Regions from separate parts of the Homo sapiens genome. Here region 2 is linked to region 1. The links come from fine-mapping of genetic effects on gene expression. A gene starts in region 1. The other region holds a variant in brackets. All regions are shown on one strand. Distances are from middle to middle.

What was found.
Region 2: its variant is fine-mapped to the expression of ZNF530 in tibial artery (GTEx, PIP 0.98).

The regions. Positions count from the first base shown.
Region 1 is chr19:57,598,301-57,601,219 of GRCh38, reverse strand. ZNF530 (zinc finger protein 530) reads right to left here and starts at 1,335. Exons shown (of 4, transcript NM_001321981.2): 1 at 1,086-1,335; 2 at 441-492. RefSeq lists enhancers at 868-987, 1,078-1,287.
Region 2 is chr19:57,645,691-57,648,609 of GRCh38, reverse strand. No RefSeq gene overlaps it. Among named protein-coding and RNA genes, the nearest start is that of ZNF211, 14 kb to the right of the region's middle. The variant T/GAGCTTCTACCAT (reference allele first, on the strand shown) is at 1,718.

The sequences.
Region 1 (2,919 bases):
CTGTTGTCTGTGCTCAGCCACAGGAGCCTCATGAGGCCTGGGGAAGATCACCTCCCTCTTCTGCTCCAAATCTTCATTGCTGCCATCATCTCCAGAACAAAGACATCTGAGACAGCCATTTAGTTTCTAACTCCTGTACCTCTGCTCTCTGTTCCCATGAGAAGGAAATGAGACTTGAGGTTCTCTTAACCAGCTCAGCCTCACCTCCAAGCAGCTCCAAACACCTGTACTTATCTCTGGGACAAACTTCCACATTCATCCTATTATTTGCCAGCAACAGGCACCACCTCATATAATACTCACCCTGGACATATTTTTGTTCAGAGTCCCTAGGCTCAAGGCCTGGAAAAGCGGTAAGTAAAGAATCCCAGGTCACCACAGTCCCAATCCTAGAGATCCCATTGCTGGAATCAATGAGCTTCTGGATTTCCTCCACTTACCCTTGTAGGGTCTTCAAGTGCTTCTTACGGACCTGTAAGTACTAGTGGCAATCTGTGGGAGGAAACATGTTCTGAGAGGCAGGTGACCAAAGTGTGGCTCCATGGACTTCTGGTTCCAATGTGGAACACCAGAGCCAGGTGTCCAGGGATGACTGCTTTGTATCTGGGTGTCAGTCCTTGGTGCTGACTTTTACCAGCTTTGTGACCTCGTAAAAAGACTAGGTCCCTCCATGCCTGCTATCATCACTGCCCTTCCAGCGCGTTCCTCTGAACAGCTTTTGTGAAACTTTTAGAAGCGTGACTGGGGCCGTGCCCCTCTTCTGTCCTACGCGCTGTGGCCCTCAGTGTGCTGGTGAAACTCAGTGGGGCCAATGCAGCGCGGCGCTGCCCCACCCTCTGCTACCTGCACGCGTGAGGCCGGCCTGGGTCTCCCCAGCCTCCCGGCTCAGGCGCAGCTCCAAGCTGTTGCCCGCGCAGCCCCCTGACCGTGTCGCTCTCCCGCTCCCTGCCACACTACCAGAAACGAGATCCAGCACCAGCGCCTCACTGTGCCGGACAGTGCGGTCCGGGCTGCAGAAAACCCTTCACGCGTCCCTCAGTTTCGGGTGGGGAGGGCAGAGGAGGCCGGGAGGACGCAGCGCTCACCTGGGTCGGGGCCCTCAGTGCCGCCGCCATCGGACTCTGGGCGGAGCGGGCCGGGAGCGGTGGACGATCCGGGCGGAGACAAGAGCAAAGCTGTCACCACCGCCGGCGACCGTCAGGCCCCGGCTGTGCAGCTGAGAAAACGACTCTCCTCGCGCCTTCTCGCTGTCAGCACCTAGGTCCAGATCCGGCACCCGCGGATGGAACTGACACAAGCCAAAGTGCCCGCCACAGGGAGGACGCCGGAAGTTCCGCTCCGACAAGTTGGACAGAGCGGAAATGTCCCTCCCCTGAGCCTCATTGGCTCCACGCCAAGAACCTGGCTCACGGGCCTCTGGGTAATGTAGTTCTCACCGCTTCTTGGGCTGGCAGAGGTCGCCCTTCTCCTGGACCTCAGGGAGGAATGACCCCGTTGCTATGGAGAAAGGTGGAGGGGAAGGCTGAGAGGTGGTGTCTCCAGCCTCCTTGGACAAGGGAGGAGCTTCGCTGCTTTTTTAAGGTACCATACAGAGATTTTTGGAGGGTATTGTGTACAACTAGTCACCTAGGTAGTCAGAGTTATTCAGATACAAAATGCCTCTACCCTTGGCGAGAGCCTAGTAAACATTACCTTCTTTCTCCACACATTTATGTAAAGTAGAACGTTAGAGTCAGCTTTGTGAGTTTCATTATGCTCAGTAAGGAATAAGGGAAATAGAGTTTACATAGCGCCATGACAGGAATGATAAAACATCCGTTAGATCGCACCGAAGCTGGAGGACGAAAGAGGAATTTTGTCTCACAGAAAATGCCTCTCCTGCCTGTGTAATCGGTGAGTGTGTCTAGCCCTGTAAGGAACAGTGTTGTATTCATATAATATTTCTTCCTCCATATTCTTAGATATGCTTCTTTTAGGATTGTAGCAACTTTCTAAACAGAAGAGCCACTTAGCATATGCCATTTTAAAGTAGAACAGTGTCTGTAGTGTTCACAGTCAGAGCACTTGTGCAAAGGGGACATCAGAATACCAGAATAAAGGTTTGGGACACCTAGCTTTCATCTCTTTGATGGGAAATTTTGATCATTGATACTGTTACTGCAGGGACAGTGCTTGCATGGGGAGTTGAGATCATCTTAGAAAAACAGTTGTGAAATGAAAATTACTGAAACCTATTGTATTAGTCAGGATTCTCCAGAGAAACACAGAACCAATAGGATACATAGATGTACAAGAGGGGATTTATTATGGGACTTGGCTCATCCAGTTATGGAGGCTAAGAAGTCCCAGGATATACCTTTTGCAACCTGGTAAGACACGAAGGTGGGTGGTATCATTCAGTCTGCATCTGAAGGCCTGAAAACCAAGGGAGCCTATGGTGAAATTCCCAGTTGGAGGCTGAAGGCCTGAGAACTGGGTGAGGGTCATTCTTGTATGTTCCAGAGTCCAAAGGCCCAAGATCCAAGAACTTTAATGTTGGAAAACAGAAGGTGGATGATCCAGGGCAAGAAGAGAGTAACTTGCTCTTTCTCTGCCTTTTTGTTCTATCTTGGCTCTCAAAGCATTGGATGTTGGCCCCTAACACTGATGAGGCCAGATCTCCTTTACATTGTCTACAGACTCAACTGCTAATATCTTCCATAAACATTCTCACAGACATATCCTGTACTAAGGTTTTCCCAACTATTTGGGTAGCCCTTAATGCAGGCAAGTCGACACAAAACATTATACGTCACAACTATTAATAATCTTGTGGCTAGGCCAAGCGCGGTGGCTCATGCCTGTAATCCCAGCACTTTAGGAGGCCAAGGCAGGTGGCTCATGAGGTCAAGAGATCAAGACCAGCCTGGCCAACATGGT
Region 2 (2,919 bases), 47 kb before region 1:
GTATCCTTTATAACCAAGAATATTTGGCAAAACTCCTGCCTTAGGCGACTCAACGTTAGCAGGGTGCCAGATGGCTCTGGCAGGAAGCCAAAGGGGCATTCATTCATGAGGATCATAACTCACAATCCACCCTCAGTCTGTCTTTCTTTCCAGTCAGGATGGGGACTGAAAAGTGATAGCAGAAAGAGGAAGAACAGGAGGAATGCCTAGTTCAATATGATCTTTGTAAGCTCTGTTATGTGAAGTGTCACCACAGAGGGCAATGAAATCTAATGGAGATGTTTTCAGTGCATTTTGGCAGGGAATAGAGCTGGGAATTTAGTATAATAAGGTCTAATGGCAGGAAAAAGACCCATCTATAAGACCATATGCTATTTCATAATTTCTACTAAGTTTTAAGTAAGCCATTGTGGCATTCTATAAAACCAGCAGCCTGGGACTGATTGGAATGTCGCAAGTTCTCTCAAATGCTTTGTCTAAAATGAGAGCTTTGTTCACCGCTGTTGTCGGGAACTCCAAAGGGAATAGGAGCGTTTTGTGGTGCTGTATAGTAGCTTCAGCAGTGCCATGTCTAGTGGGGTAAAGTAAGATGTCGGCGGTAGGCATCAACCACAGTCAAAGCATAACAAGTGGCACTGGTAGACAGAGGCAGTGGCCTGGTAAAATCTACCTGCCACATGACTAAAAGTGGGATCCAGAATAGCACACCTCAGTTGTCTTGCCAATGACAGGTATTCCCACAGAGTGCACTGACCCGTCATCATGTTGGCCATGGTAGAGGGGTGGGGAAACACTTTGTGTTTAGCCCCAGTCTTCAAGATTGGGTTCCTCATAGAGGTTCCTCTATGACTGTTGTTTCATGGGCCTATTGGGCCAAAAATAAAGGAATGGGCCTGGAAGGTCATCCAACAAAGTTTTGGTCCTAGTTTTTGAAAATTGTTGTAATCTACCAGCTTGGGAATTAAGTTAGGCTTCAGCAGTCTGAGCCTTGGTGTGGGCGGAGACATACATGATCTTAATTTATATCTTTGATATCTGAGAGGCAAGAAATTCCTGAAGTTGTTTACCCCAAGAGTATGATCTTGAACGAGAAATTGTTGCCATTGGTTGCACCAAATGACTAGAAGTGTAATTGAGGTAATTTCTTGGCCAAGGTAGCCTCCAGCGCTAAAATGACTGCCTGCAGTTCCCATCCTTCAGCAGTGTGTCTTGTTTAGAAGAAAAGCAGCAGACCTCCAGAGAGCTCCAGCTCATGTAGTGGTGGCATTACTGTCAACAAAGTATGTGTTCTCCCCTTGTTGTTTACTTACTTGATTCCAGGGCTGCCAAGGGCCCAGGAGAGAGGAGACTTCCTTCACCATGGCATCTGGCAAGAGACTGAGGACAGAGAAGGCCACCTCTTTTTCCAAGTGAGATACACCAGGGGGCCCAGGTTTGGCTCCATCCTGTATCAAGGCCTTGGTGATCAGGCTGAGCTTGTAGGTGTTGCTTTCATGACCCAGGTAATAATGTGTAACTGGGTGGAGTGTGCCATGGTTCAGGTCCTGTGAGAGCTTCTGTTTCTAAGAGGTCCCAGTATGTAGCTGGCAGTTGTTGCTCTAATTGCATGTTACATGAGGACAAAACAGGCAGTTTTTTGCACCAGAAGCCCATGGGCAGCTTATGGCCAGATGTGTGGTCCAGAGTCTAAGAAGAGAGTCTAGTGGGTAGTCCACCA[T/GAGCTTCTACCAT]GAAGGAATCTCCAGGAGGCACTAAAGGAAATGTCTGTTATATGGTCATCTGAACTGACTCTAGGGCCTTCTGTTGTAAAGGCCTCCAAAAGTGGGCTGTTTTGTGGATGGGTGAATAAATAGGCCTGAGTGGTATTTGTAAATGGAGACTATGTTGCCTCCAGGAGCAAAAGAGACCCAATAGGTGCTTGGCCAGCTTGGGATTGGTTGGAGCTGACAAAGTTAGAAGTTGCCTTCTAACAGTATCAGAAATGGAGTAATGCTAAGCACACCAGATGATGTGCACCTCAAGTGATCTGCCCACCTCGGCCTCCCAAAGTGCTGGGATTACAGGCGTGAGCCACTGCGCCCAGCTGAGAACTGTTGAAATCACCTTCGAAGGTGAATGTGTATGAGAGGCTGTTGGAATAGGTAATGAATAGAACATATATAACAGGAAAGTATTTGCCAGTGGAATAATGAATGGCTTTGTTCATGTCAACTATGTGAGGTATAGGGGATTTAATGGGTGAGACCAAAGTAGCAGAAATCTACAGTGAAATACCGTTTAATTACATTCTCTTATTTTGTGTACTAAAACTTTTCTAGAATGTTCCTTCAGTTTTTACTTCATGCTTAAATTTTTCTTTCAAATACATATAAATTTAACATACTTTCTGTTCTACCTGTGTAACACTAGAAGTAAACACTTATCTATGATTGATGATCCTTCTGGAGATAGCCTGATTTACTTGAAAACAAACAGTAGCATCTCTTCTGATTCTCCTCCACCTGATTTCCTGGTTGTTTGATTCATCCCACAGTGCTCTTCCTGGCCAAATGTCTACAGACAGCTGTGTGATCAGTTAGTGAGATGTGCTCCTCATTATCTAGCCCTGGTTCTGTGGGAAGGAGGCAACAAGTAGCTATTTTCTTCCCCAAAACATTAGTGCTATTTGTACTTTCCGTTATCACAGAATGTACCAAATATATAATATGGACAACTAAAATGTGACTGAGAGTTCTTTATCAGTAAATCCTAATAAATCCCAATGTATTTGCACTAGAAAACTTTATGTTACAAAATCCCAGAGGATTCATAATGAAAATAGACTTTGATTCCAAAATAAATGTTGGCAAATTTCATCTCAATTGTTAACTTCCATTCTTTCTCATGTTTTGTCAAGGCATTTTCAGTTCATGAAGATGAATAGAGCAAGAAC